Linked DNA regions of Homo sapiens: regions 1, 3 and 4 are each linked to region 2. Evidence: fine-mapped expression QTL. A gene starts in region 2. Each other region holds a variant in brackets. All regions are shown on one strand. Distances are between the middles of the regions.

Region 1 (8,109 bases), 94 kb after region 2:
TTCGATCAATGGTACTTGGAAAATTAGATAGCCATATGCAGAAGAATGAAACTGGACCCCTATCTCTCAACAGTAACACAAATTAACTCAAAATAGATTAAAGACCTAACCATAAAAGGTGAAACAATAAAAATCCTAGAATAATACCTAGAAAAAACTCTACTAGACATTGGCCTAAGCAAAGAATTTTTGAGCAAGTCCTCAAAAGCAAATACAACAAAAACAAAAACAGACAAATGGGACTTTATTAAACTAAAACTCTTCTGCCCAGCAAAAGAAATAATCAACAGAATAAAGACACAATCTGCAGGATGGGTCAAAATATTTGCAAACTATCCATGTGACAAGGGCCTAATATCCAGAATATATAAGGAACTCAAACAACTGAACAACAACTAAAACAATGAATGATATCATTAATAAGTGGCCAAAGGATATGAATAGATATTTTTCAAAAGAAGACACACAAGTATAAGAAATAATACTCAGCATCAATAATCATCAGGGAAATGCAAATTAAAATCACAATGTTATATCATCTTGGCCCAGTCAGAATAGCTATTACTACGCACTTTGGGAGGCTGAGGCAGGTGGATCACCTGATGTCAGGAGTTTCAGACCAGCCTGCCCAACATGGCAAAACCCCATCTCTACCAAAAAATACAAAAATTAGCCAAGCATGGTAGTGCATGCCTGTAGTCCCAGCTGCTCGGGAGGCTGAGGCAGAAAAATTGCTTGACCCGGGAGGCAGAAGTTACAGTGAGACAAGATCGCCCCACTGCACTCCAGCCTGGGAGACAAAGCGAGACTCTGTCTCAAAAAAATAAAAATAAAAAAATAATAACAGATGTTGGCAAGAATGCAGGAATAAGGGAGCTCATATACTGTTGGCGGGAATGTAAATTACTACAACCTCTTTGGAAAACACTATGGAGAATTCTCAAAGAACTGAAGACAGAACTACTATTTGATCCAGCAATCCCGCTATTGGGTATCTACCCAAAGGAAAAGAAATCTATATATCAAGAAGATACCTGCACTCATATGTTTATTGCTGTTCTATTCACAATAACCAAGGTATGGACTAAACCTAAGTGTCTATCAACAGATGACTGGAGAAATAAAATGTGGCATATATACAAAATGGAACACCATTCAGCCATAAAAAAATAATGAAATCACATTTTCTGTAGCAACATGGATGACACTGAAGGCTTTAGTGAAACGAGTCAGACACAGAAAGACAAATACCACATATTCTCACTTATAAGTGGGAGCTATTAATAAATAATGTATACCAATGGACATCAGGTATGGAATGATACACAATGGAGACTCAGAAGGGTGAGGGGGTTGGAGGGAGTGGATGATGATAAATCACTTAATGATTATGATGTACTTTATTAGGGTGATACCTTAAAACTCCTGACTTCACCACTATGAAATCTATGCATGTAACAAAATTGTACTTGTACTGAATAAATTTATACAAATAAAAAGAGATGCCTGATAATAAGACACTAATTGACCATAAACATATACACTAGCCCATTAACATGAGCTGATGGGTTTGTCAGCTGGTCAGAATCTTTGCATAAATCAAGTTGAAAGGTTAGTAAATGAAGTCTGGGAAACGTGTTAATATAACTTTCAGAATGAGCACAAAGTATGATATAGTCATGAATTATTTACATCATTATACAAAGTTGCCTATTGGAGAGGAAGCTTTCTATGGTCGAATCACAAGGTGCCCCATCCTGTGAATGTCAGTCACTCTTTGAGCAACTCTGGTGCTTGTTTAATGGACTCATGTACAAAACAGCCATGGTGATGGGCTAGAGGTTATGCATGAGGTCAACAAAATGGATTTTCTCTTCCCACAGCTTCTCTGCCTGCTGAAACAACTCATTACCCAAATGTCAATGATAGTGATTATATATTAAGTCCCAGATTGGCACGCATTCTCCACTGATTGATTATATTGGACCTCTTCCACCAGAGAGAGAAGAGCATTTTTTTCCACTGGATTAGACAATTATCCTATATGTGACTATGCCTTCCTTGGCTGCAGCGCTTCTGCCAGCATCGTCAAGCACAGACATATGACAACATTTGTATTGTCATTATGCTATTCTGTGCAAAATGGTTTCTGATCAAGGAACTAATTTTGCCACAAAAAAAAGTACAGTGAAGAGCTCTTACTTAGGGAATTGACCAATATTACTATATATATATATATATTTCTTTATATAGAAGCAGCTGTTCATCTGGATCATTGGAATATCCTACTAAAAACATGTTGCTAGTTGAAAAGCACCATCTGCAAGGCTGCAAAAACCCCATAAAATGCAGTCCTTTATTTGGATCGATGACTTATATGTGGTGATTTTTAGTTTCATGACCAAAATGCATAATTTCAAGACTAGAGAGATAAAAGTGGGAGTGGTTTCTTTTACTATCATATTCAACAATCTATTTATTATATACTCTTGTTTCTCACTCCCACGAGTCTGAGGTCTGTCAGTCTAAAAGGCTTCCCAAGAAAGGAGTGACTTCACATAAGTAGGCAACATCTGTCCTGGTGACATGGAAGTTGAGACTGCCACCTGGCCAAGTTAGGCTCCCAGTGCCACTGAATCAACTGGTCAATAAAAAGGGATTGATTCCAGCTATCAAGTGGAAATAAACACCATCAAGGTAGAGAGAATTATGCCTAAAATCCAAGGAGTTCTCTGAGAAACATGTAATTACTTCAAGTTCAGTAGCAGATATTAATTAAAGACCACAGGGATGCAATGAAGGCAGGGTCGCTAAAGACTCAGATGCTTTAGGAATTCAGATTTGAGTCTTTTTACCAGATAAAAAAATAATCCCAACATAGAGAGGAATGGCTGAGGGAAAAGGGAATCTGGAGCAGGGAGTATTAAGTGTAACTGTTATTTATAGCTTTATAACTAGTTACTGAAAAGAGGACTGTAGCAGCTATGCCTATTCTCCCTCTTGTTGAGGAGGAATTACAAGCATCCTCCACATAACCTTCTCTTGGGGGATCAAGTAAAAATAAAAATGTGTAGCTGAAACACTGGCAATCAGAGCTGACCAGAAATTTTGCTATTCTAAGAAACATGCTCCTTATAATATAGACAGATGCCCCCTAGTAGAGTACAAATGTGTCTTTTCTGTCATAAACTGCCTCCACATCATCATACTGCAGTCCATTGACACTAAGCCTCTGAAGAAGACAGCACTATAAATCTGAGGAAGATCAGTTTAAATGATGCTGATCATAAGGAAAAATCAGGACGAATCATTGTCTCATTGTCTTAAAGAGAAATTAGTATCCTTTGCTCTTATTCTGAATGTGGACATACTTTCCCTAAGTTCCATTTCTGTTAGTAGCTACAACCAAGCTGACAAAAGAGAAGGCAAACTTATTTTCTTTATCTGCCTTTCCCAGGATCTATCTGCCTCTAAACTAATTATGAGACTCAAGATGTTTATCTTAATGAACTTTCCTAAAACTGGCCAGCAGCAAACTTCCCTTCTTGACACAAAAGAGGAGTCAATAAAATAGGAAAATAAGATTTTTTTAAATTACGGAATAGAACCTGGGACTGCCACTGCCCAGTTGGAAGAGAAGTATTAGACTAATCGCCCAAATATGACTTAATCAATCCA[G/T]ATTTTTAACATTTCCTTGCTCCCTCCAATTTCTCAGAAACACCACCTTGGTAACCAGTGCTGCTGTGAGGTGAGAAAAGAACAGGACAGAACTGAAGTAACAACCAGCTCTCACAGTGAGTGATTCACATCAGCGTAAAGTCAAGCCAAGGCAAGTCACTGCAGCAATAAACCAGTAGCATGAAAATCAAAGTATCAGTGAAACTCCTAAGTGAAGGAAATCTCCTCTCAAAGATAACCTTACGAAATTCAATTTGGTACTTTCTACAGTTTTATTGAGGTATAATTGACAAATAAAACCTGTGTATATTTAAGGTGTACAACTTGACATTCTGGTATACATATATACTATGGAATAATCATCACAATCAAGCTAACTAACATGTAAATCACCTCAATCAATCCCCTCACATAGTTATCTTTTTCTTTTGGGTGAATAAAAACACATAAGAACTACCCTCTCAGCAAATTTCAAGTATACAATACAGCATTGCTAACTATAGTTACATTGTTCGAAATCTTACTTATCTTGCATCACTGAAAATGTGTGCCCTTTGACAAACATCAACCCATTTGCTCCTCTTTCCAGCCCCTGCCAAACACCATTCTACCCTCTGCCTCTGAGACAGCAAGATAGAGCTTAAGTAGCAACCAGCTCACTCACAGTGGGTGAGTCACATCAGCAGCATCAAGACAAGACAAGGTAAGTCACTGCAGCCATAAACAGCAGCATGAACACCAAAGTATCAGTCAAACTCCTAAGTGAAGGAAATCCCCTCTCAAAGATCACCTTACAAAATTCAGTTTGATATATCAAGCTCGAATATTTGAAATTACACATATAAATGTGATTATGCAGTATTTGTCTTTCTCTGACTGGCTTATTTCACTTAGCATAATGTCCTCCAGTTTCATCCATGTTGCCACAAATGGCAGGATTTTTTTCTTTTTTAAGGCTGAATAATACTTCATTATATATATACACCATATTTGCTTTTTCCATTCATTCATTGATGGACATTTAGATTTTTTTCCATATCTTGGCCACTGTGAATACTGCTGCAGTGAACATGGGGGTGCAAATATCTCTTCAACATACCAGTATTATTGCCTTTGGATAGATATGTAGTCAGAAGTGCAATTGCTGGATCATAAGGCAACTGTATTGTTAATTTCTTGAGGAACCTCCATACTGTTCCATAATGGCTGTACCAAGGTACATTCCCACCAACAGTATACAAGCATTTTCTTTACATCCTCTCCAACATTTGTTATTTCTTTTTTATGATAGCCATTAGAACATGTGTAAGATGATATGTTGTTGTGGCTTTGATTTGCATTTCCCTGATGATTAGTGGTATTGAGAACTTTTTCATACGCCTCTTAGCCAATTGCATGTCTTCTTTTGAAAAATATAAATTCAGGCTCTTTACTCGTTTTTTAATTGAGTGTTTTGGCATTCTGCTCTTGAGTTGAATGAGTTCCTTATATATTTTGAATACGAATCCCTTATTAGAAATGTGACTTGCAAATATTTTCTTCCATTCCATACATTGACTTTTCATTTGATTATTTCCTTTGCTGCGCAGAAGCTTCTTAATTTGATGTAGCCTTACTTATCTTTGCTTTCGTTGCTTTTGTGTTTGATGTCATTCTAAAAAATCATTGCCCAGACCAATGTCAAAAGGCTTTTTCCTATAGTATCTTCTAGCGGTATTATGGTTTCGGTTCTTACATTTAAGCCTTTAATCCATTTTTAGTTCATCTTTGTACATGATGAGAGATAAAGGTCCAATTTACTTATGCTACATGCAGGAATAGTTTTTCCAACATCATTTTTTGAAGAGTCTCTCCATTTCACATTGTTTTTATTGGCATCATTATCAAACATCAGTTGATAGTAAATGTGTAAATTTACTTCTGGGGTCTCTATTCTGTTCCACTGGTCTATATGTTCTGTTTTTATGGTGGTACCATACTGTTTTAATTATTGTATCTTTATATTTTGAAATCAGGGAGTGTGATGTCAGCTTTTATCTTGCTAAATATTGCTTTGGCTACTCAGATCTTCTTTAATTTTTTCACATCAATGCTTTATACTTTTTAAGGTATAAATATTTTACCTCCAAGTCACATTTATTCCTAAGTATTTTATTCCTTTTGATGTTATTTCAAATGGGCTTTTATTTCATAATTTTTTATGTGTCAATTTTTGTCAGTGTATAGAAGCGCAAGTGTGTTTTGTATGTAAAATCTGAATCCTGCAACTTTACTAAATTTATTAATTCTAAAATTTTTTTACTAGTCATTAGAGTTTTTACATATATGATTATGTCACCTACAAACAGATAATTTTACTTCATTCTTTCCAATTTAGGTGTCTTTCATTTCTTTTTCTTATCTAATAGCTCTGGCTGGGACCTTTATTAATATGTTGAAAAGAAGTATGTCATGTGGATATATTGTGTAATGCTAAGGTTCAGAATATGAATTATCTTGTTACCCAGGTAGTGAGCAAAGTATTCAACAATTTTTCAACCTTGCCTTCCTCCCTCCCTCTCCACTTCAGTAGTTCCCAGTGTCTTTTGTTGCCATCCTTATGTCCATGAGTGTCCAATGTTTAGCTCCCCCTTATAAGTGAGAACATGTCATATTTGGTTTTCTGTTCCTACATTAATTTGCTTAGAACACTGGCCTCCAGCTGCATCTATGTTGTTGCAAAGGACATGATTTCATTCTTTTTTATGGTTCTGTAGTATTCCATGGTGTATATGTACCACATTACCTTTATCTGGTCTACCACTGATGGGCACCTAGGTTGATTCCATGTCTTTGCTATTGTGAATAGTGCTGAGATAAATGTGTGCACACATGTCTTTATTATAGAATGATTTATATTCCTTTGGGTATATATCCAGTAATAGGATTCCTGGGTTGAATGGTAGCTCCATTTGAAGTTCTTTGACAAATCTCCAAACTGCTTGCCACAGTGGCTGAATTAATTTACATTCCCATCAGTAGTGTATAATCATTCCCTTTTCTTTGCAACCTCATCAGCATCTGTTTTTTTTTACTTTTTTTTCTAACACTACTCCAACATGATGTAGTTTACTTTAGCCTTCTGTACTTGTATGTCTGTAACTTCCCTCTTTCTGAGAGAAACTGGCTTCCAGCACCTGCTATCCATTTACTTGTTTTGGGTTTTTGTGTTTGAGATGGAGTCTTGCTCTGTCACCCAGGCTGGAGTACAGTGGTGTGATCTTGGCTCACTGCAACCTCCGCCTCCCATGTTCTAGTGATTCTCCTGCCTCAGTCTCCTGAGTAGCTGGGACTACAGGTGCCCAACACCATGCCCAGTTATTTTTTGTATTTTTAGTAGAGAGGGGTTTCATTATGTTGACCAGGCTGGTCTCAAACTCCTGACCTCAAGTGACCCTCCCAGCTCGGCCTCCCAGTGTTGGGATTACAGGCATGAGCCACCACGCCCAGCCCACTTTTTTACTTTTTAATAATCACCATTCTGACTGGTGGGAGATGGTATCTCATTGTGGTTTTGATTTTCATTTCTCTAATGATTAGTGATGTTGAGCATTTTTTCATATGTTTGCTGGCTGTGTGTATATCTTCTTTTAATAAGTATCTGTCCATCTCCTTTGCCCATTTTTTAGTGGGGTTGTTTAGTTTCTGCTTATTAAGTTTCTTATAGATTCTGGATATTAGACCTTTATTGAATACATGGCTTGCAAACATTTTCTCCCATTCTGTAGTTTCTCTGTTTACTCTGTTGATAGTTTCTTTTGCTGTGCAGAAGTTATTTAGTTGAATTAGGTCTCACTTGTATATTTTTGTTTTTGTTGCACTTGCTTTTGGAGACTTTGTCAAAATAGTCTGATCTTCGACAGTGTTGACAAAAGCAATGGGAAAAGGATTCCCTATTCATTAAATGGTGCTGGGATAACCAGATAGTCATATGCAGAAGATTGAAAATTGACACTTCCCTTTCACCATATGTGAAAATCAACTCAAGGTGGATTAAAGACTTAAATATAAGACCTAAAACTGTAAAAACCCTAGAAGAAAACTTATGAAGTACCATTTGGCAAAGATTTCATGACAAATTCTTCAAAAGCAGTTGAAACAAAACTAAAAATAGGCAAGCAATGTTTTTCTTCAGTAAGCCATTTTTCTAACTGAAATGTATAAAATGTGTTTGTGGTGAGTGGGTGAAGAGCTTTAAGGAGCATGTGCTCTTCTTAAACTACTGTGTTATAGGACATTGCCATGGTAATGAGTGGCCAAAGGAGTTCAGATGAAGGGTTTTGGAATGAGGGTCAAACAATCTTGAAACTGGGGTGTTGGATTGCTTTTCCTTTGGTCACTAAAGCCTCGTATGATTATATAAGAACCTATACTGAATAGAAACACAATAAT
Region 2 (8,093 bases):
GTTGGGCCAGAGCTCGGCTCTCTGTGGGTTGACCAGACAATCAGCAGGGCCCCTGGGCTTCTCCTGAAGTGGTCAGAGGAACCTGCTCTGTCCTGCTTCTTTCTCCTCCTTTCCTTCATTTCCAGGGCTGTGATTTGGGGGGCACTAGCTGAAAAGAACCATTTTGAAGGGTTTTTCCTTTTTCCTGATGAGAAGGTGGCTGTAGCACCAGTGACCCCGCCACTGTTCCTGAGCTGCAAGGCCCAGCTCCCCGCCATCCCTGGGGATTCTGTCATGCTGGACAGACAAGAGCTCCCTGCTCCTACTTCTTCCTGTCCCAGATACCTAAACCTTCCAGAGAGCCCTGGAGGCCTCCTGTGTTTCTGCTACTCTTTAATGAGTCTGTGACCACTAGAGAGTGGGGAAGGTGGTGAGAAGGAGAAGGGTGGGGAGAGGCGTGAAGATGGCTGGTGGTGTGAGTGCGCATGAATGTGTGAGTCTGAGTGTGCACGTGTAAGTATGTAAAGGAGCATGAGTGTGAGACTGCATGTGAGTGTATGTGATTGTGACAGTGTGTATGAGAGTGAGAGTGTGAGTGCGTGAGAGAAGGTGTGAGTGTGAGAATAGGAGTATGATTGTGTGCATGAGTTTGCAAGCATGTATGAGTGCGGGCATGTATGAACATGTGTGGGTGCCTTTGTATGTGAGTGTGAGTGTTGTGTGTCAGTGTGTGAGAGTGTGCATGTGGGAGTGGGTATGCACACATGCCGTGTGTGAGTTTTGCATGCCTGGGTGTGTATACTGCTTCAGCTACCACTGGGGCTGATGACTCTACTGGTAATTTTTGAGGCAGGGCTTTCCTCCCTCCATCCCATTCCAGGAGGAGGAAGTTAATTTTGAGGACCAATAGAAATGTGAGGTGGCTTGATGGGAGAAATTGTGGCTCACGAAGGTTTGGGGATCGATTCCCTGAGGTTTTTGGGGATTTTACCTCTGTGATTCCCCTAACTTAGAAATGTGGTGTGGCTTGATGGGAGAAACTGTGGCTCACAAAGTTTTGGGGATCGATTCCCTGAGATTGCTGGGGATTTTACCTCTGTGATTCCCTTAACTTAACTGTTCTTCAATATTAAGCTTATGTGTCACCTTCCCCCCAAAATCTTTCCTAACCCTAGCTGACTCCACTGTCTGGTGGTCAGGGGCTTCCAAGCTCTGGTGAGTGCCCCCTGCTTCCCTCTGGCTCAGCAGTGCGCATGATGTTTATGAATCTATCTGCCCCACTCAGCTCTGAGCTTCTCTAGGACAGGGACATTCCAGATTCATCACTGCAAGTCAAGTGCCAGATGTAGGGCCACACCTAGGAGGGGCCAGGGGATGTTTGTCCAAGGTGCGTGCTAGCAGGACCACTCAGGTTGCGGGGCGGGTTTGGGCGGGAGAGAAGGGGCCCAGAGTCAGGAAACACAACGGGGAGGTCTTTGCCTTGGTCCAGGTGTGAGAAGATGGGACAAGTGCTTGGATAGTGGGGAGGAAGAAAGTTGGGAGCCTCTGCACTAGGGGTGGTTGAGAAGGGTCAACTCACTGGCCACCAGCTCATGGACCTCCCGGCCAGGAAATAGCCGCCAATGGTCCCTCGACTTGCACGGATGGACGACTGGAAAGGAAATAGATGAGATGAGGATTTCTCAAGACTCTCTGAACCTCTGCCCTGCCCCCTCCCCGCAGATTTCCTTCCCCTCGGTGCAGGCACTGTGGGGACACAGAGGGTGAAAACTGAGGCAGAAGAGAGCTGCCTGAGGCTGGTTCCACAGTTTCTAAGCGATGTATCTTGGCAGAGTCACTTTCTCTGTGAGCCTCGCCATTCATCTCCCAGGGCCAGTGCGAAGAGCAAAGGAGGTAACGGATGTCACGTGTGTGAAGCCATTGATTGTGCACTCTTGTCCCCTTATCCTTCCCTCCCCAAAGTGCGCTTTCAGAGTATGATTTGTTATCACCTCCTTAGATGTGTAGTGCTCACCCTTTCTCTGAGCTGATCCCCTCCCTGCTCCCAGCTGAGCTCCCACACTGGAGGCGGGAGGACAGAGAGGGCTGCAGTTTGACTGTGAGACTTTGAGCCCTGAGTAGAGTTATGGGTACTGTTTTGGAGTTTCCCTTGCCCTGGGTTGAAATCAGATCACGCCACTGAGCCCCATCCAGGACCTCCCTGTCTTACACCAGTAGGTGGTCAGTTAGCAGCCTGTTGGAATATTCTCTGGAGATACAGGGTGAGGGCAGGGCAGTGGGTAGGGAAGGATGAACTTGAAGCAGCTATTCAGATGCAAAAGCCAACAGTTCTCTGACTTTCCCCTAAGGGAAAATAATCAGTCACGAGGGAGTGATAAATATGTGTGGGGCCTTGTGCTTGTTAAGCTTTTGCTTGTATTTTCCTTGTCAGCTCTGATCCTCTTGGAGGCCATACGAGCAAAACAGATCCATTTTACAGATGTGAAAATGGAGGCCCAACATTGGAAGCAATTTGTCCAAAGTCACAGAGGAGTTGGTGCTTTTCTCGGCTGGCCACTTCCAGGAGCCAGTGACCATCTGTTAGCCCAATTCTTCCTCACACCAGCACTAGAAGGCAGGGACTGTTCACCCCCCTTTATAGATGAGGAAACTGAGGCTCAGAGAGGGTCTCTGACCTGGCCACAGCCTAGGAAGTGACCATCTGGGACTTGAATCACAGCAGAGTCTAAAGGTGCTCACACTTCTGTGGAATGCGTGGTGATAATAGCAGCCATTTATTGCCTGCTGATCGGGCACCAGGCACCGTGCCAGGTGCTGCAGTATGTCCTGTTGCTGAATGATCACAGCATAGTCCTTATTCTCATTGTTCACCTGAGAAAGCTGATAGGCCTCATATGTTCCCAGGGACATGAGGCTCTCATTGTTGCAGCTGGGACCTGAACTCAGGTTTCCCTGACCCCAAAGCCTGGCCCCTGCCTCTAGCACTGAGGCTCCTGGGAACAATGGAGAACAGAGGAACCTTGGAATAAGCCTGGCACACTTCCCTGAGAGCACATGAGCCCCTTCTCATTTAGAAATCACCTTAGCCAAGATGCTAACGAATGCAGGACTGAGGTAGGGCCAGGGGTCAAGAGTTCTCAGAGTTGGGGGCCTTGGGGTGGGAAGAAGGAAGGAGTGAGGCTCAGGGCAACCAGGGATGGTTGGGGCCAAAGGCAGCAGGTGCTCAGAGAGGAGTCAGGAGTCGGGGGCCTGGTCTGCCTCTGACTCTCTGTGTGACCTCAGACCAGCCACACCCCTCTCTGCCCTTCTAAAAATGAGGAGATCAGGAGCCTGATTCCTGAAGGCCCTTCCTTCTCAGCCACATGGTTCTATGATCTGCTTCTTTCTGCCTAGCCCTGCCCCAGCTCCACAGCCCCACCCAAGCTGAGAGACCACTACTACCTCCCCTGCTAGCCCCAGCCTCAGGGCCCACTTACCCAGATCCCCACAGCAATGACGAAGACAAAGTAGATGACCACCACGCTGATGTCGTAGGCGTGCAGACCAACTCTGGAGTCCAGTGCTATGTGTGGAGCTGTCTCAGTCCTGACCCCGTCCCCTGAAGCTCCAGGCCCCATTGCTGCCAGCTCCTTGCTCATCTGTTAGTGTTGGTCAACAGCAGGCTGGACTTTGAGGCGCTCCTGGCTTCATTCCTTTCCTTTAATGATTAAACTGCCCCAAGCACCATTAGTTGGTGAGAAAACTCTGAGCCCTGCTGGCACATACAGTCCTGCCTCCTTTTCTCCCAACTGCCACCACCAACCCCTGCAGGACTCCTTCCTTCCTCTTCCTTGCTGCCACTACGTGCACACACATACATGCATGTGTACACACAGGCACACACATACACGCAATCTCCCTAACCCCAGATGAGCAGGAGGAGAAAGGAGGGGGAGGAGGAAGAGGAGAAAAGGAGCAGAATATTGGAACCCCAGAGGTGGGAAGGACTTCAGAAATCAAAGTGTTCAAACTCCTGTGTGGTGGGAAAACCAAGGCCCAGGGAAGTAAAGGTGGAGCCGGGACTGGAGTCCAATTTTCTTAAGAGTTCAATACAATTGTCTTTTACCTAGTGAGAGGAAGACAAGGGGAAGGAGGTGAGGAGTCTACTGTGACCCTAGCAAAGTGGCCACCACCTCATGTACTCCCATTCCAACCTACCTAGATGTTGCTTTCTCTTTTTATATAGTGTAGGAAACTGAGGCTGGGGAAGACATCATCATTTATTCCAAGGAACTAGGCAGGGCCATCTCTGAAAAGGCAGAGCCAGAATTCACATCTTCTGATGCCTGACCCATACTTCCTATTCTGTACTGTGACAGATGAAATGGTTGTGGTCAGGAGGCCTTCCCTGAAAAAGATACAGTGCTCCCTGGGTCCAGGGAAGACCATCTCTGGGACTCAGGCAGCCTAGATTTCAGTCCCAGCTCCACCTCTCACTGAACTACAGATGCCCTTGGGCAGGTTGCTAAATGTCTCTGGGCCCGGGTGTCCTCATCAGTGTGACCTGTGCCCTGCCTGCCTCACACCACCAATGAGGCTAAGATGTGCTCCTGAGAACCTCTGCAAACCCTGAGCTACTGAATGTTCTTGGGGTTAACACAAAGAAACCAACATCGACCACCATCTAGCCAAGGGGCCCAGATGCCACGCACTTAGATATCTGCTCACATGGTCCTTCCAAAGTAGCTGCATTTGGAATATTTCAGTCTTACAAATATTACTCTGCATGCATCTGCTGTAGGGCCCAGACTGGAGCAGCAGGAAAACAGATCTCACTGGCCCTGTCCCACACCCCATCCCCAGCTCTCACTGGCCCTGTCCCACACCCTATCCCCAGCATCTTATAAGTATCCCAAGGCTGGGTGTGAGGACCAGATCCTCTTTTTTCCCCTTTTGGTGGAAAGAAAAGTGAGAGGCAGGGTCCTAGGCCTTCTCTCCCCAGTTCTCCTATCCCAGAACATCAGGCACTGGCCAGGCTGAGCCCCGAGGAGAGGGATATTGATCTGGGAGAGAGGTCAGCATAGTCCCCAGCTGGACAGGGCTCTGTGGGATCTAGCACCTGTTAGGATTAGATACCAGAGGAAGAGTCCTTCATATACACGTTTAAAGGCAAGTTTATCAGACGAACAGGGATGCAGGAGGGGCAGCATTAGAAACATCAGGAAAATGTGATGGACCAGGTGCCCAGTGGTCCCTGGGGGTGAGCTGGATACAGGGACAGTGGGGAATGAGGCTGGCAGATCTCTGGGTGTTAATCAGGGAGCAGGGAAGGAGTGGTCTGAGCTTAGGCCTCTGAGCACACCATAGTGAGGGCTCTGGATCCGGATGACTCTTCCAGAGATGGGAAAAGGAATGTCGCAGGGAGAAGACAGCTGAGTCTTGTACTTCTTTCTATGCTCCCCACAAGGAGCCCCCTCACCCAGCCCTTGGGGTTTGCTATAGTTTGGATGCTTGTGTTGCTTCCAAAATTCATGTTGAAACTGAATCCCCAATGCAACAGTACTAAGAGGTAGGGCCTTTAGGAGTGATTAGCCCGTGAGGGCTTCTCCCTCATGGGTGGGATCAGTACCTTATAAAAGGGCTAAGGGAACTAGCCAGGCCCTTTTGCCTTTTTACCTTCTGCCATGTGAGGACACAGCCACAAGGTGCCGTCTTGGAGGCATAGACTGGGCCCTCACCAGACACCAAACCTGCTGGGGCTTTGATCTTGGACTTCCAGCCTCCAGAATTGTGAGAAATAAATTCCTGTACTTTATAAATTACCTGGTCTTAGGTGTTTTGCTGTAGCAGTAGGGATGGACTAGGACAGTGTTCTGCTGCCTGCATGCTCTGTCTTCCCATCTACCTCACAGATACATGAGGCTGACCCCCAAACCCTGCACACTTACCTAATCCAAAACTAGCAGGTTTGGGTTTATAGTAGCCTCTCCTCGAATGCATCTAAGACTTATCTGTAAGCTAACCAGGCACATTAGCAGCCCAGAGACCAACAGAGCATGAGGAAGGGAGCAAAAAAGGCTTTGAAACAGCCAGAATAGACATTCTAAAACTCATGCCCAAAACCTAAATCTTTGACTTATCAGTGAGCCTTGTGACCCCACTCAGAGACTGTTTATTTTTGTTTTAGCCAGAGTCTTGTTATTCATATCCCAACTCACAACAAATTAGAAGAGAGGGGGCAAAGCTACACAGGGACAGCAAGGAGAATGGCAGCTGATGGGTTGATGGTGCATGAGAGGTCATTAAACCTGGAAAGACCAGGAAAGACAATGTAAAAGATGACTAAATCGGGGCAAACAGACCTATAAAACTGGGTAGATCAACTCTCAACAAAGGGCATTCTTGAGTAGCAGCCAAGATTCACACACATACGGATGACCCAGAGTCATCAAGGAAAGGTGACTGTGGTCATTATGAGTTTTCTATTTAGAAGGCATGGAGTATGAAACCCAGGCAGGAAGAGTTTCATGCAAAATGGTCAAACATTTTAGGCAGGTGTTGGCATTCAAAGCTGAGGCCTCAATTATCCAGAATATTCTCTCAGAGAGCTTCCGAGAGTGAAGGATGTCCTCATGCTGTCAGTCCTACATGAAGTGAGGCCTGTCCTATCCCTGACCCTGTTCAGGGAGCACACATGTCTTTAGTTGTTCATGCCTTGTGGGGAATACAGACAGTCAAAAGACAGGTGCTTTTGACACAAAATAGGTCACTTTTGTCCACCCCTTTCTTCCTTTTAGCTGGATAGCCCAGAGGAAGGATCAATGAAGTCCTTTGTTGGAGAGACTGAGAAAGCTTTATGGGAAGGGGAATGGTTTCAGCCATGCATAAAAAAGTATAGAAATATAACAGGCCAATAAATGGAAGTTGCCACTGAGGCACAAAGACATACTACACATAAGAAGAACAAAGTTGGAGGTTTCATGCATCCTGATTTCAAAACTCACTACAAAGCTACAGTAGTGAAAGCAGTGTGGTAGTGGCATAAAGACAATCATATAAACCAATGGAATAGAACAGAGAGCCCAGAAATAAAGTCTCACAGTTACAGTCAAATGATTCTTGACAAGAGTGTGAAGACCACTCAGTGGAAAAATGACAGCATTTTCAACAAATGATGCTGAGAAAATGGAATATTCCTATGCCAAAGAAAGAAGTTGGACCCTTACATTGCACCATATATGAAAATTAACTCAAGATGGATTGAAGACTTAAATGCAAGAGCTAAGAAAATAAAGCTCTTAGAAGAAAACATAGGGTAAAATCTTCATGTTGTTGGACTTGGAGATAATTTCTTGGTGATGATGCCAAAATCACAGGCAATAAAGGAAAAAATAAATAAACTGAACTTCGTCAAAATTAAAAACTTCTGAGCATCAAAGGACACTATCAACAGAGTGAAAAGGCAACCGATGGAATGGGAGAAAATATTTACAAATCATACATCTGATAAGGGATTAGTACCTATAATATATGAAGAATTCCAGTAAATCAACACAAATGAAACTAACAATCCTACTCAAAAATAAGCAAAGGAGTTGAATAGACAATTCTCCAAAGAAGTTATACAGGTGGCCAAAATGCATATGAAAAGATGTTCAACACCACTAATCATTTATCATTGTGATACAATATCACTTTGTACCCATTTGGATGACTATTATCAATAAAACAGAAAATAACAAGTGTTGGTGAGGATGTGGAGACAGTGGAAACCTTGTGCATCACGGGTAGAAATATAGGATGGTGCAGCCTGCATGGAAAACAGTATGGTAGTTCCTCAAAAGATTAAAAATAGAGTTACTATGACCTAGCAATTTCACTTTTGGGCATATATCCAAAAGAATTGAAAACAGAGATTCAAAGAAATATTTGTACACCCATGTTCATAACAGCATTAATTTTAATGGCCAAAAGATGCAAACAACCCAAATGTCCATCAACAAATGAAGGGATAAACAAAATGTAGTCAAAACATTTAATGGAATATCATTCAGCCTTATAAGGAATTCAGGGCTGACACATACTACAACAGAGATGAACCTTGACATTATGCTGAATGAAAGAGAATTTTTGAG
Region 3 (8,109 bases), 24 kb after region 2:
TTTTAAATATAAATAACCACACACATGGTTTCTGAATTGTACAACAGAGAATTCTAGATAATGTCAGTTTTTCTAGTAATAAATGCTCTCCATCCTAGCCCCTTTTTGAGGTTGGGCTTCTAAAGATTAGTTAGGTTGTCTCCCAAGTTTCTCACAGTGGAGAAGGGGAGGAAGTGCAGGAGGAAGCAAAAATGAATTTATAAACACTATAATAAAAGTGAGCCTAATTACAGCAAGAGATCAAAATAAATAATACCGATAGTTGCTTTTAGTTTTGAGTGCTAGCCAGGTGTAAAACACTTTAAAATGTGATTTAATCCTCAAAGAATTCCTATGCAATTTTGTAGCTGAAGAAACCAAGGCTCAGAGTGGCCAAATGGTTTGTTATTTGTGGCAGAGAATTTAGATGCCCATCTAGGTGAGCCTCGGACTCTAAAACCTTCCTACAATGCTGATGTAAGGCTTTAAAGAAGAATACATCTCATCGAGTGAGAATACTATTGAAGGCTTTCTAAAGACGGTTGGGTTTGAGCTAGGCAGGAAGAATAAATGGGGTTTTGTTAAAAAAGAAGAGAAGATAGGGTCCAAGCAGAGGGACAGTATCAGTCAATGAGTAAGAAATGCTGGGAGCATGTTCAACACATTATCATGGTATTTAACCAAAATTTGAGGAGGGACATGTCTCTCCTTTGTAATGGGCTTGGCTGGGTCCAAGAAGAGGCGACTGGTGCCTGACTAGAGGGAATCTGTATTTGTAGGAAAATAGAGAGAGCCTGGTCTGCAGAAGAGTATCACTGAAACCACTAGTCTGGGAGAAAGATTATGGTGCCCCCATAGGAACTGGAGAGCTGCAGAGCCAAGAAAGGAGGGGCAGGAGGGGCAGAAGGGAATGGGGCTCCCTTTGAGATGGGTAAATAAATGGAGTGTAAACATACACCCATGTATGCTTGAATGTCAAGGGAGACTCACAGGTTATTAAAGGATCCACTGCGACTACTTGGAGGAAGAAACAGGGAGTGATGGAAGCCAGTGGGTCTCGTTGAGACTAAGTCATGTGAGACATGCCTTACTGCTTTACCTGTGTTTTTAAGATTAATTGATTAACAGATCTAAGAGAATCTATTGACCAAACAATTAAGTAGTTCTTAGGCATCAATTATGTAATGGGCCCAGCAGTCAAAGCTTTTCATGTTGGTGTTTCAAAAGGACATTTTCCAAAAATCTCTTGAGGGAAATATGGAGAAATGTATGTTTGATGACTCTGCAGTAGCTGATGCTACCATGGCAATCTGGAGGCAGGCTTCCAGGGACTTAACCACGTTCTTTCTTGACAAACGTGTTGAGTGATTTGAATAAAGAATTTGCCAAAGGGCTATCAGATTTGGTAAGGACAACTAATTCATTATCCAGAGAATCAAAAGCAAAGCAGTTATTATCTGCTATAATTGATTTGACTCTATCAGGATAATATTTAATTACAAAAACTATAAAGTTTAGCATTTAGCCTCAGGAAAACCAATTTTAAAAGAGAAGTAGTGTCTGCTTTGGTAATGTCAGCCTGCTAGCCATTTTTTTTTTTTTTTAGCTTGAGCTATCAAGATGCTGTGGTGAATAAACCACTGCCTCACAGGTCTTTCATTCCTGTCAAAAGATCTTTAGAGACAGATGGAATTCCTTTTACACTCACTGCTTGAGTGAGGACTGCAAACACTACGGTGACTTTTAGTGTGCAGAGTGGAGACCTGGCTGTGAATAAACAGTGACATCCTGGCTTTTCTGCTGGAAAAAGAGAATTGTTTAAGTTAAAAAATGTAAAACTGAGGGGTGGGGTTGCTGTGTGTTATTTCTTTTCCCTAAATGCAGATCTCTGCTTAGAAAGCCAGACTCTATTTATCAGGCTTTAGCCCTGAGGAAATAAGAAGAAAGGAGAAAAGGGAATGTCTCTAAAGTAGCACTGGATGGGGGCAAATGTGGGCAGAAGAAAAGATTGAGCTGCTTGAGAGTGGGATTGAGTTTGCCTTACTTTGCTCTGCCTGTTGCAGGCACGTGTGGGGCAGGCTAGATGGAGCGTTTGTTAACTGACTACTTAGGTGATGGCAGAGTCACTGACCTGGCCTTTCCTCCCTTCTCCAATCTTTTCTCACACTCAAGCCAAAGAGATAGTTTCAAATGAGTATTTGTGTATGTCCTTCCCAAATCTTACACTCTGCTTAAAACCTTTCAGTGATTTTCCAGAACTCTCAGAATAAAGCTAAAATTCCTGAACATAGTCTACTAGACCCTGCCCAGTCTGCCTTGCAGCCTCATTTTGCCTCAAATCTCCCTCTATTTTGCTATGTTTCACCTGCTATTGTCTTAGATTTCCTGGCAATGTCCTGTACTTCTTCCCACTGCAGGACCTCTGCACATGCTCTTGCTTTTGGCCAGTGAGTTCTCCTGGGCCCACTCCCTTACTCTGAGCTCTCAAAGATCCGTGTTCTTCCCACAAGCTCCAGAGAACAGGGATTGGCCTTTGTTTGCTCGTTGTATTATCCCCAGCACAGTGCCAGACACATAGAAAATCCCTAATTGAAACAACCTTTGCAAAAACTATAACAGTGGGAAAATTATGACAGAGAAAGAGATCTTATCTAATCAACCCCCATCTTACCCTTAACCTTGGTCATTCCTGGGCTTGGGCCAAGCTAACTTTGGGAGAAATTTAGTATATAGTTTAAATAATAATAGCCCTTCCCCAAACTAAACCACCTTTGTAAAACTAAGACCATCAGGTTAGGAGGATGAGAGGAGGCTGAATTCGGCTAAGATGTAGGTATAAATGATGACTAGTCATTATTCTGGAAATCAGCTTCCTCAATTACTCCTGCAGATAACATCACTATTGCAGAACCTAAGACTGGCCTTTTGAGTTGTCTTTTCAGGCTTTTGCATTTATGATGACTGGATGGCCCCACCTGGACCCACGACTCTGGACTTAACTGGTCCTGTGGCCCTCACCCAGAAGCAGACTCAGTGTACTGCAACCGTGTTCCACACCCCTAGGATTGCATCCTCAAATAATCAGCAGAACCTGTTCCCCTGCCTCCCCTGTCCTTGAAAAGCCCAAGCCTCTGAATTTTTGAGAACATGGATTTGAGTAATAAAACTTCAGTCTCCTGTTCAGTTGGCTCTGCGTGAATTAAACTCTGTCTCTATTGGAATTCCCCTGTCTTGATAAACTGGCTGTATCTGGGAAGTAGGTAAGGAGAATCTGTGGGGTGGTTACATAATTATTGAAAGAATGGCTGAATTTTCTTTCTAGATTGCAAGACCTTTGTGCTATCCATCAGATTTTGCTTTTAGGAAATGAGAAGAAAAAATAACTCAGAGCAGTCTGAGTCATGTGAGGTATAGAAGACTTATCAGGCCCAGAGAAACAAGAGTTTAGGACATCAGTCACCCCCACCTCCACCCTGCACCTATATCTGGGGGCAATTTTTTAAAGATATTTTGTTCCTGACTAGTTGCCTCACTCATTATCTTCATGTTTCTGAAATTCGTGATACAAAGAACAATGTATAGCCAATCAATAGCTTATGTTATTTTAAGAACATCTTGATAAACAACATAGAAACTTCCTCCTTTTTTCCTTTAAAACTTGACCTGTGGCCAGGCGCAGTGGCTCACACCTATAATCCCAGTAATTTGGGAGGTCGAGGCAGGTGGATTGCTTGCGCCCAGGTGTTTGAGACCAATCAGGGCAACATGGTGAGACTCTGTCTCTACCAAAAATTTAAAAATTAGCCAGATGTCGTGGTGCTTACCTGTTGTCCCAGCTACTTGGGAGGTTGAGTTGGGAGGATTACTTGAGCCTGGGAGGTCAAGTCTGCAGTGAGCCATGACTGCGCCACTGCACTCCAGCCTGGGTGACAGAGTGAGACCTGGTCTGAAAAAACAAAACAAAAGAAAACAACCAACTTGAGTCTGGGTGCAGTGGCTCATGCCTATAATCCCAGCACTTTGGGAGGCTGAGGTGGGTGGATCACTTGAGGTCAGGAGTTTAAGACCAGCCTGGCCAACATGGTGTAACCCCATCTCTACTAAAAACAAAAATACAAAATTTACCCGGGAGTGGTGGCGGGTGCCTGTAAACCCAGCT[A/G]CTAGGGAGGCTGAGGCAGGAGAATTACTTGAATCTGGGAGATGGAGGTTGCATAGAGCCAAGATTGTGCTATTGCACTCCGGCCTGGGTGACAGAGAGAGACTCCATCTCAAAAAACAAAAGAAAACAAAACAAAAAAATAACTTGTAACTGTTGCCAATCAGAGTGTATATTCAGGGCAACTTGAATCTATGGTCCTGGGTTTCAGTCCTCAAATGTGGCCCCAGTAAACTCTCTACTTATATTAATTTTGCCTCAGTCTTTTTTTTTTTCCTTTTAGGTTAACAAAAAGCATGTAGTATCCATTTTTCATTGCTCTTTCCTTAACTTCTGTGTGGGTTGGGGTAACATCTTTACTTCCTGATGGGAAGGCTTTGATGTTGATAAAAGGCCAATGAGTAGGTAGGGAAGGTTTCTGGGGCATGTGACTGGGGGAGAAAGAAATTTTCCCAGGCTGTCTTAGGAACCACGTGCTTTGCCAATCGCCACGTTTGTTCTGCCCGGCCCAATCTGAGTTGCAGGAATTTAATCTTAATAATTGGATGATAAAGAACACATCCACCCATAGAGCCCTAAAGGAGCTGGGGTTTCATCAGCTTGAGGAGCAGTATTCTATTCAAACCTATGCATATGTGGGAGAGGAAAAAATTTTCTATCCTCTTAGAGTTTCTAGCTAGGCCCAAAAATGAAACCGACATAAAACAGATTAACAGAAGAACAGCATGCAAACTTTATTCCTTTTTTTTTCTTTTTTTTTTTAGATAGACTCTTGCTCCCAAACCCAGGCTGGATGCAGTGGTGTGATCTTGGCTCATAGCAACCTCCACCTCCTGGGTTCAAGCAATTCTCCTGCCTCAGTCTCCTAAGTAGCTGGGATTGCAGGTGCCCACCACTACGCCCAGCTAATTTTTTTTTTTTTTTTTTTGTATTTTTAGTAGAGATGGGATTTTGCCATGTTGGCCAGCCTTGTCTCAAACTCCTGACCTCAGGTGATCTGCCTGCCTCCCAAAGTGCTGGGATTACAGGCATGAGCCACTGCATATATGGGGATCTTTATAAGAGGACAAAGACCTGAAGGAGTGACTGGAACAGAAAGCTTTTATATCATTTAAATAAAGAAATGATACTGTAGGGAAAGCTCACTGAAAAATCACCGACATGAGACAGCTTAATAGGATAAAATGCACACAAATTTAAGAAGTGAACTGCCTTCATGCAACATGCACAGAAAGTGCACATGGAGGGAATTACAGGGTGACTACTCACTTGCAATGGGGTTAAGAAGCTTATGTAACATCCTGACAACAGGTTATGGGAGTGGTGAGAAGAGGAATTCCATTGAGGGGCAATAAAGGATTATGAAGGAGAATGAATGGATTCTGGAACTGAGAGTAACTTGTAAATAGTTCTCTTTGACAGTGAAAGGGCCTGTTCTGGTGTGGTCACATTTGTGGTCTTACAGGAAGGGGAAGTAGGTATGGATAAAGGAAATTCCTCTATCTTTAGACTGTATGGGGCCGGGCGCGGTGGCTCACGCCTGTAATCCCAGCTCTCAGGGAGGCTAAGAGGCGGGAGGATAGCTTGAGCCCAGGAGTTCGAGACCTGCCTGGGCAATATAGCGAGACCCCGTTCTCCAGAAAAAGGAAAAAAAAAAACAAAAAAAAAAAACAATAGACTGTATGGATAAAGGAACTTCACCTTCCTTGGGAGAGACAGCAGAGGGAGAAGGTCAGAGAAACCTTGAGGCTTCTTCTGTTCAGCCTGTCAACGCATTGAATTTGGGGTATCTGTTTCTGAGCCCCAACAATACATTTGTGAAGAAATGACAAGACAAAAGGGTTTGAACTAGGAGCTGTAAGTTGTGGAGAAGTCACTAGGAGATATATGGTGGTGGTGGGGCAGGGAATAAAACTAGTGGAAGATAAGGGTTATTTTAGTATGTTTGTTTGTACAGATCCATTTCGGCATTGATTCCCAGTCTCTGGTGATAAGGGTATTCTTCTCTTCCTGGCACAGGGAGGGAATCTTTCTCATGGAAAATTCTGTGGCTTGTTTTCAGTAGAAAAGGAGCCGTTAGATGACTCTTCCTGCATCTGCTGTTTCTCAAGTGTCATCAGCTGGAAATAATTAATATGTCAAAGCGGCATATTTTGGCGTGGCTTGTCCTTAGCTCTTTCACCTGTCGTATCTCATGTGACTTTAAACCGTGTTAAACCATGGTGCTGTGGAATAGCCTCGTGAAAGCGGAATAGAGCTGTACTGAAAGGTTGCTGTTTTCCTATTATTGATGGGGATAGCCACGGATTCTTCTCTTGGGAGTCAAGCAACCCACACAGACCGTGTGCCCCCAACTGCCTTTGGGCATATGCCATCAGGGAGAATCCCTGGTGGTGCAAGAATTCCAGTGCTGGAATGGGAAGGTTTGCTTAATTCCTGGATTTAGTATTCAGAAGCTGACTTGCTCATAGATACTGCACACACTTCCCAATATCAGAGTTTTGTTCTTTAATAAAAGTAATATTTTGATCTCCTGCTTTACTATATAGTTTTATTTTCTCAATTAATTCAAAACTTAGACTGAAAGAAAAGGGGAGCTATAATTTTTGCCCCTTTGGAGCTCCAACAAAATATACAAATTTAAAAATAAATGATGGGACAGAAATACACTGGAAACCTGTAAATCTATTAAAATTATGTTTTTGAAGACCAACAATAAAACAGGTTCATAATGTATTCTGGAGTGTAAAAAAAGAGAATAGAATTATAGTGTTTGTCAAGCATTCCAAAAATGTGTTCCCTGTATCAATATTATCAGCACTACGTGGGAACTTGTTAGCAAGTTCTTGCACTCCACCTAGAGCTACTGAGTCAGACACTCTGGAGTGTTGCCAGTGGTTTGTCTTTAAAAAAACCCTGCAGGTAATTCTCATGAACGGTAAAGTTTTGGAATTCTTCAATTTTTAGCACACACACAATACTGGATGGAAATATACCAAAATGTTAATACTAATATTATTTGAAAGGTGAGGCTACAGTTGTGTGCATGATTCAGTATAAGTTAATATTAAAATAAATTATTTCATTTCCAGAGGTTTTTGGTGGATTCCTCGGCTTACCTCCCATCAATAAATCCAAAAGAGAACAGTAATTCTTCTTGTCATTTTGTAAGTTATCACCATTTATTTATCAAGCCCAAGCAAGATTACATATATTTGTGGTTTATGAGAGTAGGTCATTTTTCCATTTAAGACTTTTTTTTTTGTTTTGAAATAATTATACATTCACAGGAAATTGCAAAGATACAACTGAAAGCAATTGACTTTGGTATCCTAAACCTTTCTATAACTACTTATCAATTTCACGAGGGTTTTGTTTGTTCGTTTTGAGATTCCTTGGGATTTTCTGTAGAAAGAATCATATCATCTACAAAGGCAGTTTTTTTTTCTTTGACTTCAAGTTTTTTTTTTTTTAACTTCTATTTTAGGTGCCGGTTTGTTATGTAGGTAAACTCGTGTAACAGGGGTTTGTTGTACAGATTATTTCATCACCCAGGTATTAAACCTAGTACACATATAGTTATCTTTTCTGCTCCTCTTCCTCCTCCCCACCCTTCACCCTCGAACAGACCCCAGTGTCTGTTGTTCCCTTCTTTGTGTTCATGAGTTTTCATCATTTAACTTCCACTTATAAGTGAGCACATTCGATATTATTTTTTCTGTTTCTGTGTTAGTTTGCTAAGGATAATAGCCCCAGCTCCCACAACAGCTCATGTTCCCACAAAGCACATGATCTTGTTCTTTTTTATGACTGCATAGCATTCCATGGTATATACGTACCACATTTTCTTCATCCAATCTGTCATTGATGGGCATTTAGGTTGATTCCACGTCTTTGCTGTTGTGAACAGTGCTGCAATGAACATTTGCATGCATGTATCTTTATGGTAGAATGATTCATATTCCTCCATGTAT
Region 4 (8,109 bases), 32 kb before region 2:
TGGACATCACCACCATTCCCAACACAAAACCATAGATCTAATACTAGGCCTATGAAGAGTTAGTGTTTTTCCCAAGCAGTAATTATAAGGAAGGTGTACAGCCCTAACCTGTTTATCAAGCTCCAGATTCACAGATACAAAAACTATCTGGCTATGCCAGTGGGATATCCCATGGGTACCTCCAAGTCGGTGTGCTCAAATCTGAACTCATAATTTCTTCTTTCAAGACCAAACCTGCTTTCCACATCTTAATACATTAGAGTACCTACTCTTTAGATCTAAAGCCTGGGAATTATTCTTAATTCTCTCCATCCCCCCAGAGTCAGTAAGTCCTGCAGATTTAACTTCACGAATGCCTTTTAGCAGCCTTCTCCCCTCCTCCAGTCCTCTCCCCTCCTTCACGGCTACTGTCCTAATTCAGGCCCTCATTCAAAGGAGGTTATCTTTTTGTAATTGTACTAACTTTTAAAAGTTAAAATAGTATGTTGTTGCAAATAGTGTAGTACAGCTTATGATATTCTCTTTTCTTACCCCATACCTGCAGGTACCCAGGGATGACCTTCTGTGAATGGTCTGCCTAGGTATTCTGGTGGATTCCTCCACAACTCCTTTTGATATTATGTAGATATAATACCTTTTATCTTGACTTCAACAAGCCAAGAACAATCTCTACTATGAAAGATGAAAATTTAATGTTGACTACCTTTCCTCCCTTCTTTTCCCAGTGTTTGATATTCATGTTATTATTAGTTATTTTATTGATTACATATGTAATTTTCAGTAACAGACTTAAACCTCTATTTCTTGCTCCACCTACTTTCAACAATCTGTTGACTACCTACTTTGTAAGAAGACAGATATTAACACTTCTGTCTTTGCCCTCTCAATTCTATCTTTTGTCAACTACATGTTTATGTTGTCAAAGTTGTAACATTTACATTCTTTTCTTTAGCCAAATTAATCTTCCATGCTCTTCCTTCCATAATTTTTTATTCTACAATTAACATTTTGATGTGTTTGCTTTAGTACAGTATTAATTTATCAATCCTTTTTTAAACAGTGGTAAAATGTACATAACATAATATTTATAATTTTAACCATTGTAAAATATACAAATTTTAACCATTTATAATTTTAACCAAATGTACACATTTGGTTACAGCATTCATAATGTACATAATGTACAGCATTCATAATGCTGTATACCTATCACCACTATCTATACCCCAAATTTTTCATCATCCTCAACATAAACTCTGTACCCACTAAACAATTTCTCCCCCTTGCCTACTCTTCCCCTGCCCTCTATTCAGCTTTTTCTCTCTCTGAATTTGCCTATTCTGGGGACCTCATGTAAGTAGAATCATTCAATATTTGCCTTTCTCTGTCTGGTTTATTTCAGTAAATGTAATGTTTTCAAGGTCCATTCACGTTATAGTATATATCAAAAATTCATTCCTTTTTAAAAAAACTTTTATTTGAGGTTCAGGGATACATGTGCAGCTTTGTTACACAGGTAAACTGGTGTCACGAATGTTTATTATACAGATTGTTTTATCATGCAGGTACTAAGTTTAGTACCCAATTGTTATTTTTTCTGATCCTCTCCCTCCTCCCACTTTCCACTCTCAAGTAGGCCCCAGTGTGTGTTGTTCCCCTCTTTGTGTCCACGAGATATCATTTAGCTGTCCTTTTTACATGGCTGAATAGTATTCTATGTGTATGTATAAGATTTTGTTTATCCCTTTATCTACTGATGGATTTTTCCTTTCTTTTTTTCAGTGATACTGCAACAACCTCAAAAATTGCCATCCCTTAGCAGCCTCTGGCTCTATCATTTATTCTCTTACTGTTGCTGGAATGATCTTTCTAAAGATAAGATGCTCTTTGTATATATTAGTTGCCCTTACCCTTCCTGACTCTGTCCCATTCTTGGCTATACCGTGGCACCCAGTGTCCCTAGGCTCACCTCTACCTCTTCTCCAATGTCATCTGTGTTACACTCTCACAGACCCTGTGCTTCAGCCACAAAAGGTACCTCACTCTACCTTAGAGATGCCATGGCCTTTTACATACTTGTCTTGCTTTGTGCAGTTTCTTCTGTCTCTCATATAATCATTTTGTCTGTCTACACAGAAATCTCTACACTCCAAGTAGAGTTAAATGTCTAAATCTAAGTTAAACATTATTTCCCATGAAGCCTTCCCCATTTCCACGAGGTAATTTGTTGCTCCTTTCTCTGTTTTTCTGAAGTATTTTGTTCCCACCTAGAATTTCAGTGCTTAATTGTTCTGCAATAATTTGCTGACTTGCCTGCCTTTTTTATTCAACTGACCTCCGCGTAGATTGCAGCTGTTTTCCATATTTATGTCATGAACCTGGAAACTGTAACATTCATGAAGAATGCTGCATGAGTGAGTAGTAGTACAATGAGGGTAGGGTTGAATGTGGAGTCAGAAATCTGGGCTTAAAGACCAGTTCAGCCACATTACCTCACCTCTCTGAGTTTGTTTCTTCATTCATCAGTCCTAGACTGGTGTTGAGAACTAAATGAGATGGTTAATGTGGGAGCACTCTTTATAAAATAATTGCGAGGATTTTAAAAATTATCAGTCTTACTAGTCTTCATGTACTTCTCATCCCAGATAAATTTACTATTCTATAGGAAGTTCCCAGTTTGTGAATCATTCCTTTAAGAAGAAATCATAAATAGTGGAAATATAATTTTGGAATACCTGATGTTTGCTTTGTTTGCTTAAGTGGTTAGAAATTTCAGGGATGCAGAATTTAGCTAGCAAAAGGAAGAACTTTCTAATTGGCAGTGTGGTCCAGTAATGAATGCTCTCAGGAGGTCATCATTGCTCCATCTCTGGACCACCCTGCCAATTAGCAAGTTCTAATAGAGGGCTGGCTAAGTTTACCTGTCAGGGAGACTGTTCAGATAAATTCTGACCCAGAATGAAGAGGGAGGAGAGCTGCACTAGCTGACTCTGAGGTTCCTTCTCATTCTGAATGTTTATAATCCTAAAATTTACATACAAGGCATACTGAGAGAGAGACCAATGCTGCTTTTGTAGTCTATTCAGGAGATAAGGTATAAAGGTTGGGTTTTATTTTTTCCTCTTTAAGAGAAAGTTGTAGATTTTGTATAAGACCACAGTAAAAAGTCTGACATTTCTACTTTGTGAGTCTGGGCTGAAGCTGAAATTTGATTTTGAAATATGAAAGTAAACTGTAACTACCTTAATTTAAGCCTGTAGGATTTACATTTATATATAACCTTTAAATTTCTCCCAAATTTTCACCCTGGAGAAAAAAAGAAATTACAGTAATCTTACTTAAGGCTAGAAATCTAGACAGACACTCATTCTAGGTTAATGGATAACTGACACTGCTTTGCCTGGGCTTCTAGCAGTTTCCATCCCCTCTGACTGATGTGAACTCTCACACCCAAGGACATGGTTACGAGTCTCTCATGTTAAATTGAGTGCTTTTGTAGTCCAAACTCAATAACAAAAACACTTTAGAAAACATTTTCTTCATGATATTTTTAAGAGTGCTATTTTTTTTTAAAACACCATCCTTTCACAGTTCAAAGCTGCTTCTTAATGTTATTATTGCTCATGGTAAACCCATTTCAATTCTCTGAAAGCTACTCTGCAATGTTTTTCTATTTGTGCTGTTGCCTCTCAAGCTGACATATGACTTTCCCTGTATACCCTCCACTACCACCAACCAATCCATCCACTTCCTGCCCCAAGGAGACAAACTGTGGAAACAAATTAGAAGCACACAATGTCAACATGAGAAGCGTCCATAGATTTCATCTAATCTAATTCAAGCCTTTGCGCCTCTCCTCTTTTAAGGAAGAAGCAACTGAGGGATGGCTAGGGAGGGTCATAAAGCAAGTAATGACAAAATTAAGCTAGGATACAAAT[C/A]TTTTACCTGCTTATCTAGTACTTTTAACCACTGCCCCATGCACCGACTGGAGGTGAGTTGGGGTAGGGGCTCTGAAAGGTTTCAGAGAGGTGGTTACAGCTCTCACTGTGGTGACTGACAACTGACCCAATGGACAGGCAGTTTCCTTTTAAGTGACTTGGTAGAAGGCCTGACATCATCTTGCAATTGAATGAGGGGCTAAGAACCCTGCTGAAATATATACATATAGAGAGAGCCGGGTGACATCTCATATGTACATATTGGCAGGTAGTGATGGAGAGATCAACCTGAGAACAAGGTCCTGCTGGAATGAGAAAGCATGGCAAAGATGAGAGGTTTGGAAAGGGGCCACAGGAGCATTACAGTCAATGAGACTGAAGGTCCACATTAGAGACTGGAACAACTGAGGCACAAATGGTGAATGCTACCATCTGAGATTCCTCAGATACATTGAGGACATTCTGAATGTGAAGGGGGTTGTTGGAACTTGGAGGCAAAAGAGGCTGCTTTGCTTTTTAATTTTTACAGGCTGTCCTGAAGCTCACATTTGGGTGTTGACTGGCCTTTCTGAAACGGAGATGAAACTTGTCTACCTACCTCTAAGAGTTGTAGGATTTAATGAGACCTCACCCGTGGCGGGACTTTGTAACTCCAAAGTCTGTACAGATTGTACAGATATTGTCTATTATTCTTTCTCTTGATTGTGGCTAAGAACTAAGGAATCCAGAGCCAAAATATGATGGAGTAAATTGAACATGCATTCATTCACTCATTCATTGAACATTTATGAAGAGCTTACTAAATGTCCTAAAACAATGCAACCCCTAGATGAATACCACACCTACTTTCAAAGAGCACCAGTCTGTGGCAAAGAAGAGATGAAAATAATTATAACACTTGCATGAAACTTGCTATAGTAGAAACACAGGGGCCTGTGGAGGCTCAGAGGAAGGACACAAAACCAACTTGGGTGAGTGGAGGAAGTAGCATGAAAAGTTAGTAGGAAATGATTCCTGAGGTGAGTAGGAGATAGGCAATGGTGGTAGAAGGTCAAGGGTAAGTGTTCCAGGCAAAGGGAGCGACATGAACAATGGCATGGGATAGGGGAAGTAGGGCTGAATGAGAGGACCTTGGAGACCCCTTCAAATGGTAAGTGTGACAGACACATTAACGAAAATGTAAATGTGTGTGTGATGTGTGTGCCTTCAGTAGACCTGCCCAGGGCTTGGTGGTAATATAGGCCTCAACATGCCTTTTTCTCCAGCCCCTCCTATGTCATTCTTGGCTTGCCCACTACCCCTGAAACACTTTTCATCTTGAAGGGCCTGGATAATTGTTGCTGAACCCTTGCATGGCCTTAAGCAAGTCCCATCCCTTCTAGAAGTCTCCAGTGTCTCTTTCTGTGAAATATGGGGGTCTGATTAGCTGGTCACTGAGGTCCCTTCTAGGACTGACCCTGACTTGTGAGCTTCCTACACTGCAGTGATTCACTGTTTGCCTCTGACTCTCCCCCACACTCTGGGAATGGAGCTTAGGTCTCCTGACTTTCAGCTTAGGGTTCTTTTCTTTCCACCACATTGGCTGTTTTACTGTATCATAAGAGTTAAAGGAGAAACATCCTGTTCCTCAGAGAACTGAGTCTAGCTGAGAGCTAAGAAGGCACCAAAGCTTGAACACCATGGTACCCCTAGTGCCTGGAACAGGGTGCGGCCCATGACATTATTTGTAGTGTTTAGTGCCAAAATGAAAGAAATCTTGATTGTAAAACCTCAAAACTGGAGATAACCTAATAGATCTCTTTGTATGGGCTGTTCCCTCTGCCTGAAAACCTTCCCTTCAGCACCCACTTCCTGTGGCCAGCAGCAGGGCTAAGACTTGATACTAGACAGGAGAGCTTCTCTCCCTGTGGGTAAGACTTTATGGTCAAAATCCTCCAGACTTTGCCCTTTTCCCTCTCCACAAAGCCCAACTTCAAAGCCTGATTTCCTGTTAAAAAACTGTCTTTGGTTTCTCGGAAGCAGCACATGAAACCAGGTGCCAGCGGTTTATTTCAGAGGAGATCCCAGGAAACACCTCCAAGGAAATGGGGAAATGAGACAGGGAAGGGAAGGGAGCTATGCAGGGTGTGTTAATGGACATATTAACACGGTGGGTAGCTGCGCCTCATTGTCCCTCTGAAAGATATTTTAGAGCAAGGCTCCAAGTTGTCCCACTTCAGGGCAAGGGGCTGACAGTGCTTATCCTCAAACTCTTTTTTGTCGCTGGTTCAGGGCTGCTCCCAGGTGTGTTAACTCCAAGCACTTCTAGCTTGTTGTATGCAGGGGACCGAACATTTTTCTACAGTCAGAGAAAGCCCTCAGCAGAGAGGTGAAGGGGCTTTCAGCAGGAAGTCACAGTAAACAGCACTGCTGAGACCTAGGGGATGTGGGCAAGGAGACTGACAGCCTCTGCCCCAGTGGTGCAATGCCCATTATCTTCAGTCCCTGGTCAGTAATCTTCACAGCTCTGCCTTAGAGGCAAGAGGCTAAATACAGACAGGATTTATAAGGGGAAATTAAATATGCAGGGTTGACATTTGCAAATGAATAAATAGTATCCCTATTTTATGGGAATTCATTGTGCACTTTTGTACCTTAACCCTTTAGCACATGCTGCCTCACTACCTTGTATGACTTTTTCTAGAAAACTCCAATTCATTCTTCCTTCAAACTCTAGCTCCATTATGCACTTTTATGTTATGCCCTTTCCTGATTGCCCTGATAGAACTAATTCCTCCCTGCTCTTTTCTCTGACAGCATTTTCTGCTAGATCTAAAATAACATTGCTATGTAGTGTCATGCCTCCTTATGTGTTCATCTTGCCTGCTACTAATAGCAGTAATAATGTTGTGGGACGTTTTCCTTAGTTTAGCTAAGAGCCAGGTCCTTATCGCATGGCCATGAAAAATTAGGCTTGCAGATGATTTGAAGGGTGAGAATAATGGGATTTATTGGGCAAAAAGGAAAAAACGGGGAACAGGAACTCACTTCAAGGCCAGAGTTCCTGCTAGTGTAGGATTCCCACCTCACAGATTGAATTCCAGGTTCCACCCAAGGAGAGGAGAGGCCAGGCTCCTCCCTGCTGCAAATGGCACGAACGTCTGTGGCTCCATCCCAGTGTGCACTCCTCTCAGTGCATAGGCCAGTTGGAGTTTTGCCAGGGAGCCCTTCCCACCTGGCTGTCTCAGTAATAGCTAACATTTATTAAGTACTTTAGTTATGTGTGAGGCACTATTTTAAATACTTTATTTGAATTAACTAATTTAATCTTCTCATCAACCCAATGAAGTAGCTGCTATTACTGTCTCCATTTTGTGGATGAGAAAAGATAGATAGAGAAATTAAACAACTTTTCCAATATCTTGTCATTAGAAAATGACAGCATGAGGAATTGGTTCCAGAAGATCAGTCTTTCAAGCCCCTGCAGTCTTCTTAACCACTGCACATAACAGCCTGTCTTTGGCTGTAGTACAGAAGGGGGCACAAGGACAAAACCCTGGGATATATTTCTAGCAATTTTCATAGGATCTCATGCCAAGCTGGAAAACACCATCTATGGAGAGTCTTAAATAGAACAATACTTGCATTTTAGAAAAATCATTCTTGCTATAGTGCATAGGATGAATTGCAAGAAGAGAGACTGGGAAGAGAGATAAGAGTCAAAGGGCTGTTGAAATGATCCAGGTAAGAGATGAAGTCCCAAGTTTAGCATGGACCTTCCTTCCTGAGCTATCACCTGCTTACCTCCCAGTCACTGCACCACCCATTCCCCAACATGCAGGCCTAACACTCATGGATGTGCAGGTGGTGCCCTGCACAAATACACCTGGACAATAGGGGCATGTGGGAGCTGAAGTGAGCGTGGGCTCTGGCTGCCACCTGTCACCCTATAGTGAGGATCTGTATCTGCCAAGAAGAAAGGCATCTTTTGCTCACTTTCACAATGAAGCATAAGGACTAGCAGTGGTCCTGTCCACGTGTATCTTCCACTCCCGACATTTAAAACTATTTTTGTTCCTAGTTATGTCATAATTTTTCCCACCTCTGTGTTTTTTAATCTTTGGTTTCCTCTGCTAGGGGTGCCCTTTCACTCACTCATTTCATTCATTTATTCTTTCACTTATTCATATAA

Which allele goes with the higher level. Positions count from the first base shown, and alleles are read on the strand shown. Sizes are in standard deviations (SD) of each study's normalised expression. Not every link is listed here.
For the expression in sun-exposed skin of the gene that starts at base 3,638 in region 2, allele T in region 1 goes with a lower level than allele G (small effect, 0.27 SD a copy in GTEx).

What was found. PIP is the estimated chance that this variant, and not a neighbour inherited with it, causes the effect. A credible set is the group of variants that fine-mapping cannot tell apart.
Region 1: its variant is the best candidate, but not a certain one, in a credible set for the expression of SLC5A9 in sun-exposed skin (GTEx, PIP 0.62).
Region 3: its variant is the best candidate, but not a certain one, in a credible set for the expression of SLC5A9 in sun-exposed skin (GTEx, PIP 0.62).
Region 4: its variant is the best candidate, but not a certain one, in a credible set for the expression of SLC5A9 in whole blood (TOPMed, PIP 0.75).

Annotation. Positions count from the first base shown.
Region 1 is chr1:48,124,180-48,132,288 of GRCh38, reverse strand. The region is part of intron 10 of LINC02794 (long intergenic non-protein coding RNA 2794); the gene reads right to left. It also overlaps the pseudogene SKINT1L. Among named protein-coding and RNA genes, the nearest start is that of LINC02794, 78 kb to the right of the region's middle. The variant G/T (reference allele first, on the strand shown) is at 3,679.
Region 2 is chr1:48,218,261-48,226,353 of GRCh38, reverse strand. SLC5A9 (solute carrier family 5 member 9) reads right to left here and starts at 3,638. Exons shown (of 14, transcript NM_001011547.3): 1 at 3,456-3,638; 2 at 1,559-1,630. The coding sequence starts at 3,617.
Region 3 is chr1:48,193,892-48,202,000 of GRCh38, reverse strand. No RefSeq gene overlaps it. Among named protein-coding and RNA genes, the nearest start is that of SLC5A9, 25 kb to the left of the region's middle. The variant A/G (reference allele first, on the strand shown) is at 4,139.
Region 4 is chr1:48,249,755-48,257,863 of GRCh38, reverse strand. No RefSeq gene overlaps it. Among named protein-coding and RNA genes, the nearest start is that of SLC5A9, 31 kb to the right of the region's middle. The variant C/A (reference allele first, on the strand shown) is at 3,939.